Regions from separate parts of the Homo sapiens genome. Here all the other regions are reported to be linked to region 2. The links are microRNA targets in miRTarBase. Many come from high-throughput screens and were not tested one by one. Region 2 holds a microRNA gene; each other region holds the end of a gene's coding sequence.

Evidence for each region. Region 2 holds the annotated microRNA hsa-miR-4485-5p (ACCGCCUGCCCAGUGA, at 1,126-1,141, opposite strand). A microRNA usually pairs through its seed, bases 2 to 8, with sites in the 3' UTR of a target mRNA and lowers its output. Matches are read on the target gene's strand: a 7mer-m8 pairs with bases 2 to 8, a 7mer-A1 pairs with bases 2 to 7 and ends in A, and an 8mer does both.
Region 1: the mRNA of ZNF566 is a reported target of hsa-miR-4485-5p. Seed matches in the 3' UTR shown: 7mer-A1 at 181-187.
Region 3: the mRNA of CCDC69 is a reported target of hsa-miR-4485-5p. Seed matches in the 3' UTR shown: 7mer-A1 at 2,672-2,678.
Region 4: the mRNA of NIPAL1 is a reported target of hsa-miR-4485-5p. Seed matches in the 3' UTR shown: 7mer-A1 at 2,309-2,315.

Annotation. Positions count from the first base shown.
Region 1 is chr19:36,446,175-36,449,285 of GRCh38, forward strand. ZNF566 (zinc finger protein 566) reads right to left here. Exons shown (of 5, transcript NM_001145344.1): 5 at 1-3,111. The coding sequence ends at 2,803. Among named protein-coding and RNA genes, the nearest start is that of ZFP82, 29 kb to the left of the region's middle. RefSeq lists an enhancer at 2,877-3,111.
Region 2 is chr11:10,507,180-10,510,290 of GRCh38, forward strand. MIR4485 (microRNA 4485) reads right to left here and starts at 1,147; the gene lies at 1,091-1,147. It overlaps AMPD3 (adenosine monophosphate deaminase 3), which reads left to right. Exons shown (of 15, transcript NM_001025389.2): 15 at 1-400. It also overlaps the pseudogene MTRNR2L8. RefSeq lists a silencer at 1,943-2,237.
Region 3 is chr5:151,180,867-151,183,977 of GRCh38, reverse strand. CCDC69 (coiled-coil domain containing 69) reads left to right here. Exons shown (of 9, transcript NM_015621.3): 9 at 364-2,926. The coding sequence ends at 541. Among named protein-coding and RNA genes, the nearest start is that of ANXA6, 25 kb to the right of the region's middle.
Region 4 is chr4:48,036,010-48,039,009 of GRCh38, reverse strand. It overlaps NIPAL1 (NIPA like domain containing 1), which reads right to left. Exons shown (of 6, transcript NM_207330.3): 6 at 1-3,000. The coding sequence ends at 2,838. Among named protein-coding and RNA genes, the nearest start is that of NIPAL1, 21 kb to the right of the region's middle. RefSeq lists enhancers at 1,998-2,057, 2,078-2,337.

The DNA of each region.
Region 1 (3,111 bases), not on the chromosome of region 2:
TAATATACACAACCTTTAAATATTATTCAGAAGAAAATTGACAGAGGGGAGGGAATGAGGAACGGAGAAGGGCAAAGATAATCATTTTTTCTTTCTTTTTTTTTTTTTTTTTTGAGACAGATTTTTTGAGACTCTGTCATGCAGGCTGGAGTGCAGTCAGGATCTCAGCTCACTGCAACCTCCGCCTCCCGGGTTCAAGCGATTCTCCTGCCTCAGCCTTCCGAGCAGCTGGGACTACAGGCACATGCCACCACGCCCAGCTAATTTTTGTATTTTTAGTAGAGATGGGGTTTCACTATATTGGCCAGGCTGCCCCCTGCCTTGGCCTCCCAAAGCACTGGGATTACAGGCGTAAGCCACTGTGCCCAGCCCCTTTTCTTTCTCTTTAATGGTATTGTTTCATTAATTTGGGTGCAAATGCACTATCTCTATAATTTTAGATGAAGAACTTTATAAAAGACATAAGCACACAAGAAAAGAAAGTAAACAAAATCTCATTTGGCAGTTTTCATTTTGATAACGCAAAACATTACAACAGTCCATTTTTAGTAATTCTCTCATTTGCAGGTATTTTTGCTCACTCTACTTTTCTCAAATTTATTATGAAATATTTTACTTCCTTATGCCAGTAAAGTAAAGTAACACAATGTTCAGAGAGACCCGTCTACACAGGATCTAAGAAAAAAGGAAGTGGGGCATAAAATAACAGTTCTACAGACATAAACTTCATCCTTCCACATATGCGATCTGTCCAGCGTGGGGAGCTGCTTGCTGAGCATGTTTTGAGCACAGGGAAGGCCCATTTCAAAACACTAACTTAACCCCAAACAAAGCTACACTGTGGACTTTTTTTTTTTTTTTTTAATAGTCTCATTCTGTCGCTCAGGCTGAAGTGCCATGGCGTGATCTTGGCTCACTGCAACCTCCACCTCCTGCATTCAAGTGATTCTCCTGCCTCAGCCTCCCCAGTAGCTGGGATTACAGGCATGTGCCACCATGCCTGGCTAAGTTTTGTATTTTTGAGTAAAAATGGGGTTTCAACATGTTGGCCAGGCTGGTCTCAAGCTCCTGGCCTCAAATGATCCTTCCATCTCAGCCTCCCAAAGTGCTGGGATTACAGGCGTGAGCCAAGATGTGTACTTCTATATAACTGAAATAGTTCCTTGAACATTTGATAAAGTTTTCCTTAGAAAGAAACTGGATTTGGTGCTTCATTAGTAATAGTTAACTGATCACATGCTAATTTTTCCCTGTTCTCTGTGTTTATGAGAGTCTTTGAAGAGTCCTAATTTTCTTGGAGTCAATATTGATGTATATTTTCCTTAAAAACCATTTTGTTTAAATTTTCAAACATATTAGAAAAAAGCATAATATTCAACAGAACCTTTTAAATCTGTAACTATGTTTCTATCTCTGTCCATTTTTTAAATATGATGCTGTTTCTCTTTTCATACTTTTTTTCCTCATTAGTGCACCAATATTTTGCTTATGTTCTCTTTTCTTTTTTACTGGGTATATAATGCGACAAAAAGAGTATTAGTCGGAATAAAGTCCTTCACACACATTATTCACAGTACTTTCCCCCCCAACACCTAGGATTATTTCATGTTCAATAGTAAGTACATGATGATGGGAAATTTTCTTAACTTGTTACCTTCAAAGGGTCTTTCTTCAGTCAAACACCCTGCCTAATGGTGACTAAGTTCTGCAGAAGTTAAAAAGCCTTTCTACAAATAATAATACTGATGATGATGAATATAATAACGATGACTAACATTCAGTGAGTATGTATTTATCATGTCAGGCACAATTCTAAGCACTTTATCGATCTTAATTCATTTAATCCTCACAAAGCATTATGAGGTAGGTATTATAATTATCCCCCATTTTATAATTTTTACTGAGACACGCATGTATATATGAACAGAAAAATGATCAGCAATAAATAATGAACTGATAAAGACTATCCTTTGGGATATGGTCAAAGGGTACATTTGCCTTTTTGTAATGTTTGCATCTTTTATAAGGAAAATATATTCACACATTACTTCTGCAATTAAAAGATATGATACAAAGATGTGCTTAGGGAGAATGTCCAGCAGGGACTTGTATTTTGGCATGTATTATGGCAAAATATCTAGAGGAGACTACGATATCCACCAATAGGATTTCATAAGTGATATTACAGTAACACAACAAAACACCATGAAGATAATGAAGAATCTCTATTGAGTAAAATGTCGTTCATGAACATTTTTACAATAAGAAAGCCTTAATGTTATAAAGAACAAAAAGAATAAGCCATCTTCAAAAATAAAGAGGTCACTTCTCCCAGGTACTAAAGGTATTTTTAAAATAGTATACAAATCAGGATGTAAACAGATGAAATTTATAGCCATATAAATTTAATATGGATTAAAATACTAAGAATGTAACAATTAGAGAAATTAGGGGAAAAAATGACAATCACAGGACTACATTTCTACAAAAATTCTCTGACGTTAAGAAGGTTAGAAAGGTGTTAAAAGTGCTGTCATTTTCAGTATGACAGACTGAATTATCTATCATATTGCTAGACTGAATTATCTGATGTCAAGAGAAGTAAGCGTTTAGTTAAGGGCTTCCAAAGTATATTCTATTCATAGAGTATTTCTCCAACATTATTTTTCCCAGGCTGAATAAGCTGTAGTCCACAAATAAAATGTTTCTACATTATTCTATCTAGAGGAATTATTAACAAGATAAATTCTGTTTTGAGCCATAATTAAAAGCCTCCCTACACATTTCATATATTCTGTTTCATCACCAGTACAAATTTTGATGCTGAATAAGTTGTGGGTCATAATTAAAGTTCTTTCCACATTCCCTATATTCATAGGGTTTCTCACTAGTATGAATTCTATGATGACTAATAAGCTGTGAACTCTGAGAATAAGCCTTCCCACATATCTTACATTCATAGGGTTTCTCCCCAGTATGAATTCTCTGATGTCTAGTAAGGTCTGAGCCAGAACGAAAAGCCTTTTCACATTCCTTACATTCGTAAGGTTTCTCACCTGTATGGATTCTTTGATGTTTAATAAGTTGTGAGCTCTGACTAAAGGCATTGCC
Region 2 (3,111 bases):
CTGCTCAAGGACCTTCCTATCTATTTCTGTGGTCAAATTCAGACTACAGGAGGTCTTTTTGAATCATTATAGTTAGAAGAAGAATCCAGTTTCTGCCTGTGAACTTATTTGACTTTAGATTGTCTCATCTTGTGACTTTATAATGCCTGTCCCCTCCACTGGTCAATTCAGCATATGGAAGTATAAATGCAGTCTTTTTACTAGGCAGATATATATGCTATCTTACAGCTAATTATGAAATTGAATGAAAATCCATTGTTATCTTAGGGATTAGTTTTGAAAAGCCCCCGTTTATATACATTTGCCCTAACATAGGAAGTATTGTGTAGTTTCTCATTGTCATTTTATCTGTATCAAGTATCTTTTTTTAAATTGTTAAATAAAGTCAGCTAGGACTGTGGCTCAATAGTTTAAAACTATTTAAAGATAATCATATTTAAAGCAAATGTTAAAGATTTTTACTCTTAAGATTGGGCACCATGAAAAGCTATCAATAATAATAGCTAATTTATCTTTTACTAAGACTCCGACATGAATGACATTCACTAGGAAAACTCAAAATTTTCAAACTGAAGCTCACCAGACCCAGAAGATAAATCTTCCTTTGTTATTTTCTCTAACTTCTACCCTGTTATAGTTCATGAGCAAAGCTATACATGTTCCTTTCCTTTTCCCGGGGTATTATTTTAGTCTGTCCAGCTAACACCTTGTTGATATGGACTCTAGAATAGGATTGCGCTGTTATCCCTAGGGTAACTTGTTCCGTTGGTCAAGTTATTGGATCAATTAAACGTGGTAATTCGCTTTGACTGGTGAAGTCTCGGCATGTGTTGCTCGGAGGTCGGATTGTGCTCCGAGGTCGCCCCAACCGAAATTTTTCACGCAGGTTTGATAGTTTAGGGCCTGTGGACTTGTTAAGTGTTGTTTGCGTTAATGAATTAAAGCTCCATAGGGTCTTCTCGTCTTGTTATACTATGCCCGCCTCTTCACGGGCAGGTCAATTTCACTGGTTGAAAGTAAGAGACAGCTGAACCCTCGTGGAGCCATTCATACAAGTCCCTATTTAAGGAACAAGTGATTATGCTACCTTTGCACAGTTAGGGTACCGCGGCCGTTAAACGCATGTCACTGGGCAGGCGGTGCCTCTAATACTGAGAATGCTAGAGGTGATGTTTTTGGTAAACAGGCGGGGTAAGATTTGCCGAGTTCCTTTTACTTTTTTTAACCTTTCCTTGTGGGCATGCCTGTGTTGGGTTAACAGTGGGGGTAATAATGGCTTGTTGGTTGGTTATAGATATTGGGCTGTTAATTGTCAGTTTAATATTTTGGTCTGATGTAGGCTTATGCGGAGGAGAATGTTTTCATGTTACTTATACTAACATTAGCTCTTCTATAGGGTAATAGATTGGTCCAATTGGGTGCAAGGAGTTCAGTTATGTGTTTGGGATTTTTTAGATGACAGGTGTCGAGCTTGAACGCTTTCTTAATTGGTGGCTGCTTTTAGGCCTACTGTGGGTATTAAATTTTTTACTCTCTTTACAAGGTTTTTTCCTAGTGTCCAAAGAGCTGTTCCTCTTTGGACTAACAGTTAAATTTACAGGGGGATTTGGAGGGTTCTGTGGGTAAATTTAAAGTTGAACTAAGATTCTGTCTTGGACAACCAGCTATCACCAGACTCGGTAGGTTTGTCGCCTCTACCTACGAATCTTCCCACTATTTTGCTACATAGACGGGTGTGCTCTTTTAGCTGTTCTTAGGTAGCTCGTCTGGTTTCGGGGGTCTTAGCTTTGGTTCTCTTTGCAAAGTTATTTCTAGTTAATTCATTATGCAGAAGGTACAGGGATTAGTCCTTGCTGTATTATGCTTGGTTGCAATTTTTCATCTTTCCCTTGCGGTACTATATCTATTGCGCCGATTTACAATTTCTATCGCCTATACTTTATTTGGGTAAATGATTTGGTTAAAGCTGTTCGGTAGTAAGGTGGAATGGGTTTGGGGCTAGGTTTGGCTCAGAGCGGTCAAGTTGAGTTGAAATCTCCTAAGTGTAAGTTGGGTGCTTTGTGTTAAGCTACACTCTGGTTCGTCCAAGTGCACTTTCCAGTACACTTACCATGTTACGACTTATCTCCTCTATATAAATGCGTAGGGGTTTTAGTTAAGTGTCCTTTGAAGTATACTTGAGGAGGGTGACGGGCGGTGTGTACGCGCTTCAGGGCCCTGTTCAACTAAGCACTCTACTCTTAGTTTACTGCTAAATCCACCTTCGACCCTTAAATTTCATCAGGGTTATCGTAGTTTTCTGAAGTAGAAAATGTAGCCCATTTCTTGCCACCTCATGGGCTACACCTTGACCTAACGTCTTTACGTGGGTACTTGCGCTTACTTTGCGGCCTTCGTCAGGGTTTGCTGAAGGTGGCGGTATATAGGCTGAGCAAGAGGTGGTGAGGTTGATCGGGGTTTATCGATTACAGAACAGGCTCCTCTAGAGGGATATGAAGCACCGCCAGGTCCTTTGAGTTTTAAGCTGTGGCTCGTAGTGTTCTGGCGAGCAGTTTTGTTAATTTAACTGTTGAAGTTTAGGGCTAAGCATAGTGGGGTATCTAATCCCAGTTTGGGTCTTAGTTATTCTGTGTTCAGATGCATTAAAGCCACTTTCGTAGTTTATTTTGTATCAACTGGAGTTTTTTACAACTCACATGAATTTTAGCTTTATTGAGGGGAATTGATCTAAAACACTCTTTATGCCGGTTTCTATTGACTTGGGTTAATCGTGTGACCGCGGTGGCTGGCACGAAATTGACCAACCCTGGGGTTAGTATGGCTTAGTTAAACTTTGGTTTATTGCTAAAGGTTTATCACTGCTGTCTCCCGTGGAGGTGTGGCTAGGCTAAGCGTTTTGAGCTGCGTTGCTGCGTGCTTGATACCTGTTCCTTTTGATCGTGGTGATTTAGAGGGTGACTCACTGGGGCGGGGATGCTTGCATGTGTAATCCTACTAAGAGCTAATAGAAAGGCTAGGACCAAACCTATTTGTTTATGGGGTGATATGAGCCCGTCGAAACATTTTCAGTGTATTGCTTTGGGGAAGTAAGCTACATAAACTGTATGGGGT
Region 3 (3,111 bases), not on the chromosome of region 2:
ATACTGTACATATTTTCTCATCTAATCCTCATAATTACTCTAAGAGCTGGGTCCTATTCTTCTTCTTCCCATTTTACAAATGAGAAGACTGAAATTTAAGAAGAATGAATAACTTATTCAAGATTATATAGCTAAGTGGTAGAGCAGAGATTTGAAGCAGCTCAGAACTGCCTGCCTGTCTGTGAGGCCCCCGCTCCTTGGTCAACAGATTGAATTGCCTCTTGTATACAGGCCAACAAGGAGGGCAGTGGGGACCCTGCAGCAGGCTGCTGGTCCATCTAAGGAAGGCTTCCTGGGGGAATGGGTTGGTCTCTGTGGCAGCTGCTCCCAGTAGGCAACCCTGGGCTCTGTGTGCATCCACAGGCAGCTGTCAGAAGACCTGCTTCTCACGCGTGAGGCCCTGGAGAAGGAGGTGCAGCTGCGGCGACAGCTCCAGCAGGAGAAGGAGGAGCTGTTGTACCGGGTCCTTGGGGCCAATGCCTCGCCTGCCTTCCCTCTGGCCCCTGTCACTCCCACTGAGGTCTCTTTCCTCGCCACATAGGGTGCAGGGCCTGGGCCCACCACGACGCCTGAAGTCACAGCTCCTTCCAAGGTTTTTCTGGAGAAGACAGCAGGAGCCTCTCAGTTCTTTTCCAGGAAGGAACGAGGGTGGGAGCGAGATGGAGATCCTGGGTGTGTGCCCAGTGAGCCCTGGGGCCTTGAGTTACATGGAATCACCCACAGGGTTTTGGAGGCCCCGAGAAGCGTCTTCCCTTGAGTTGGCCAAGGGAATAAGCAAGAGGAGACATTTCCTCCCTGCCCCAGCACTCTGTCCCAATCCGAGAAGTTCCGAGGCTTTCCCAGGGGCAGTCTGTGTCACGCTGGCCATTTGACATAAAGGAGACAGCCCCTGGTCCCAGCTTGTCAGCTCTGCTGCCGACTTGCTGACTTATCAACTTCCTCTAGGTGTTTCCACTCCACCCTGGCCTGCTCAGAGCCTCAGTTTACCCCTGCATTAAAATGGTGGGGGGACTGGTCAAAGGACTCTTATGTCACTGCAGTGTCCCATTCTAGGATTGTCTGAAGGCCAGAGTAGGGGTTGGGGGGAGTGTGGACAAACCCCGCAAATCAGAGTGGGGAAGGTGAGTGGTAGAGAGGGGGTCTCTGAAGGCCCTTGGGGCTGACAGGGCCAGGCAGCCTCCCCAGCTGAGGCATCATTCCTGGGCCAGAGTCGTGTCCACCAAGGGACAGTAGCCAGAGCTCCTCTTCCTTTACCAGGCAAGGTGCATCCCCTCAGCCCTCCTGGCCCTTCAGTCTTGGTGCCACCTGGGCACAGGGGCAAGCTTGGTGGTTGTGAGTCCATTCATCTATCAGAGCTGGAACCTCATCCCTGCACAGATGAGGAAACCAAGGCATGGAGCAGTTCCCAGAGTCGAATCTAGATCTCATCTGTCATCCGGGTCTTATCCTTTGCTCTGTTTTTCTCTTCAGGCTCTGGAAAATCAGATCTGTGACTTAATCTTCCTCTCCCTGGCCCTCACCCACTTAGTTTCTTTTTCATTCCTGCTCCCTGCCTTAACTCCTCCTCCCACTGCCCCTGATCCCAGGCCCAGGCTTTTACAACCTGGTGCTCAGCTTCCCCATCAGTGAAAAGGGGTGGCTAGAGTAACTAACCTCAGCAGGCCGTCCAGTCCTGATAGTCTGTGGATTTCGGATCCTTCTCAGGAAGCTTCATGTCTAATGGAGACTATAATTATAACTCCTGTTCTGCATAGAGCATTTGCATCAAAGGCTTTCCATACCCCTCCCTCCCCTGGTCCTCATAAGATCCTTGAAGCAGGTTCCTATTCCTCATTGGCAACATGGCAAACAGATCACAGGAGTCAAAGGGCCTTGCTCAAGGTCCCCAGCTTCAGCCCCAGGCCCTAAGCCAGCGTCAGAACAGTCAATCTGCATTTTTCATCAGTCATTCTATAGTGACATCATCCCAGACTGCCTTCTGTATTCCCCTGTGTACAGTCTCCTTCTGTTTCTAGGTTTAGAAGTTCAGAGGTGACTGTGTTTCTCCATTTCCACAGCCAAATGGGGGAAGAGGTGAGGCTAGGGGAGTGCTGTGCTGATTCTCCAGCCATGGTCAGACAGGTCACCCAGGAGCCTCGAGGAAAGCCCTGGAGGGAATCACATGTGTACTTTTTCATGAAGCTTTTTGCAAAGCACATCTGCGATACACTAGTTTATTGAACTAATGTCCAGGAGTAGACATGATTGGTGGCCAAGTTATTTGGGGACACCTAAACAGATCAGTGACCTGAATGACTTCTCAGAACCTTTAATATGCCAATGTGTGTGGCAAACTTACAAGAAGGGAGCTAAGTATCCAGCCTCTCCCAAACCTCTTTGAACAAAGCTTCTGTCCCTCCCACACCTCTCACCTCACAGGCACATCAGGCTGCAGAATGCGCTTTAGAAAGCATTGTTTTAGTCCAGGCACAGTGGCTCACGCCTGTAATCCCAGCACTTTGGGAGGCCGAGGTGGGTGGATCACAAGGTTGGGAGATTGAGACCATCCTGGCTAACACAGTGAAACCCTGTCTCTACTAAAAAAATACAAAAAATTAGCTTGGCGTGGTGGTGGGCGCCTGTAGTCCCAGCAGCTTGGGAGGCTGAGGCTGGAGAATGGTGTGAACCCAGGAGGCGGAGCTTGCAGTGAGCCAAGATCGCGCCACTGCACTCCAGCCCGGGTGACAGAGCAAGACTCCGTCTCAAAAAAAAGAAAAGAAAAAAGAAAGCATTGTTTTAATTGAGAGGGGCAGGGCTGGAGAAGGAGCAAGTTGTGGGGAGCCAGGCTTCCCTCACGCAGCCTGTGGTGGATGTGGGAAGGAGATCAACTTCTCCTCACTCTGGGACAGACGATGTATGGAAACTAAAAAGAACATGCGGCACCTTATTTATGTGACTTTTGTGTTTTTCTGGGAGGGTGGGGAGGTGGGTCTTCACAAGGACTTCTGCCAATGGTGGGGATCTCTGAAGAGTAAATCTGGGGCCTGGGTAGCCCACTCGTGGTTCTGGGCACTCTCCTCAAGCACCAAAGCCCCACTGGCCCTTGCTTTGCCCTAATTGTGGATGTGGGGC
Region 4 (3,000 bases), not on the chromosome of region 2:
TCAGTAACTTTTATGTAGACAGTTTTCAAATATTTCATTGTTTCTCAGCATACTTCAACTCATTAAATCTTTCCCAGTCTTCCTCCTGGGCATGCATACATGTCAACATCAGTTCAATTTCCTGTCCAGGGTACACAATGAGCCTTGTGTTTGGGAACCTTTGACCTGGTCATAACGTACCAAGGGCAAACACCTTGTAAAAGGTGACACAAAGAAATGTCTGAAACTTAAATTCGCCAGAACACAGAATCACCAGAGTCCCAGGTTGGATGTCAAGAAAAGTGCCATTAATTTCCTCACCAAGGTGTCCTAGAGAGATCAATAAAGTTCTTAATATTAAAAGAAAAAATATTAAAATTTCTGCAATTTTCAAATGCCACTTTATCAGAAGATACTTTTTTGGGTCAGGGTCTCACTCTTGTCACCCAGGCTGGAATGCAGTGGCACAATCATAACTTACTGCAGCCTTGAACTCCTAAGCTCAAATGATCCTCCTGACTCAGCCTCTTGATGTTTTTTACATTTTTTAGAGACATGGGGTCTAGTTTATTGCCCAGGCTGGTCTCAAACTCCTGGGGACTAGAAATCCTCCCACCTGAGCCCCCCAAAGTGTTGGAATTACAGGTGTGAGCCATTGCCCAGACAGAAGATACTTTTACTACAAACTTGTGTTCATAGCTTATATATCTGATATACAAGTAAAGTGAAACAGCAATCAACAGAGTAAACACATTTTTGACCTGAGGTATCAACCCATGGACCTTCCATGGATTATCGATTTTCAAAAACGTAGAATGCATTAGAATTGCACTCAACACTAAACTATGCTGAAAAGACTATAATGTATAATGGAACATTAGGGCCTTGCAGCCATCTCAGGTAGGTTGTCATTGTGAACATCAGTCATTGTTTAATAGAACTGTGGAAATGCTGAAGTTAGTTTAATCGAATTCTGAATAATAAAGTTTACCATTATTACCTCAGGTAGTCTTGAAGTAGCTTAGAAACAAAAACCAAACCTAATAACATTTAAGGTTAGAGCAGAAAAACATTCAGTCTACCTGAATTTTTTTTTTTTTAATGACAACTTTTTGGTTAGGATTTTTGTTTTGAGAAAAATAAGATTGTTATAAAAATAAGATAGCCAATTTATTTTCCATAAAATCAATAAGTGACAGTAAATCTGTCCATCACATTAAAGACCACCAAAAATGTTATTCCTGCCATGCATTTGAAATGAGAGGGGAAAATTTTATAAACATTTTAATGTGCGAAAAAGGTATTTTCCTGCAGTAGCCCCTGAGATCTTAGTATTTTGTTTGCCAGGAAGTTAACTTTCTATCCTATTAGAATATATCTATTTTTAAAGGTTAGTAACTAATTATAATTTCCTTAATAAGGGTGAAAGTGCAAAATTTCAAGAGAGCCATTATGATAATTTGTTCAGATTTTTCACAAAGATTTTTCTAGTTGCTTCCAAACAGTCTGTGGAAAACTCACTCTTTAGGGATAAAACATTTGAGAGCAATCGAAATGTAGGATATAATCCTGAAATAATGTAGCAATCTTTTACAAAAATCTCTATATCAACAAGAAAAATAACCTTTAGGATAATAGTAAAAGAAAAGGAAAAAAAATGAACATAAGTGACTCCAAAGCTGAATTCACCTGGACTTCTTCAGAAACTCCATTTTGTCCTATGTCTTCCAGACCTGAGTTAATTAATGGAACCTGTGAAAACAATCACGTGTCTGTGTTTTTGTGAGAAGAAAACTTTTTCCTTTATCTGAAGTATTTTTCTCTTCCTCCGTTCTCCCTCTTTAACTGGTAGTAAATTCCTATGATAATGTCAATAAGTTACAATTCATAAACTCTTCATGGGTGGGTATGTCTTGTGTATTCTAGCCCACTAACAAATAAAGCAGGCTTTTTTTTAAATTTCTTTTTTCTTAAAATAACTAATTAGCTATCTAGTTTAAGAAGGAGGTGCAGAAGGAAGAACAAAGCACCCGTGGTTTCACTTCTGTTTTAAAAAAAGTTTTTTAAAGCAAAAGCCCCTGGCCCTTTCTCTTCTTCTTTTTTGAGACAGGGCCTTGCTTTGTCACCCAGGCTGGAGCACAATGGCGCAATCTGGGCTCACGGCAGCCCCAACCTCGCAGACTCAAGCAATCCTCCCACCTCAGGCTCCCGGGTGGCTGGAACTACAGGCATGTGCCACCACGCCTGGCTAATTTTTGTATTTTTTGTAGAGACAGGGTCTCGCCTTGTGGCCCAAGGTGGTCTCGAACTCCTGAGCTCAAGTGATCTGTCCGCCTTGGCCTCCCAAACTGCTAGGATTACAGGTGTGAACCACCATGCCTGGCCTCTCTTCTCAGTTTTAATATGAGAAATTACATGATTATACCTTTCTGAAATCTTGTTGAGTTTGAAATTATGACTCAACGGAGAATATGACTGATACTGTGTCTATCAGAACACTGCTAACTGTATATTGGTGAATGACTGTAAGTCTAAAAATAGCTACCAAAGAAATGAAGAGCCACCTGGCAGAGACAAAGATACTGTGACCAGAAGAAGGAGATTATTCTGAGACACACATAGCTCTTTGACTTCTTTGATCCTTAGAGAGTATTTCAAAGTTTGTAGAGATTCTGGAGGATAATCAATTTGATTTTCAAATTCAATGGCCAAAAAAATGGCATTTTTACTTGGCCTCACATCTAAATTAGTTAGAACTGCAAAAATGCTAACTTTCCTAGCAGTTCTTCCAAGAAGCAAGCATTCATTTTCCTCTTCGTGTGTCTCATATTGGTTAAAACTCAGTGTTTCTAGAGACTTCAGTCATCAGTTCTACTAAACAAGGTAACGTCATCATTGTATCCTGGGGCTGAACACTCCAAGTTCTCTAGTAAAACATAATTGTTTTCATTGACATTCAGAGAGACGGCTTCTTTCTTAGCAGTGGATGTAAGCTCACTCCAAGTAATGTCAGTATTTTTA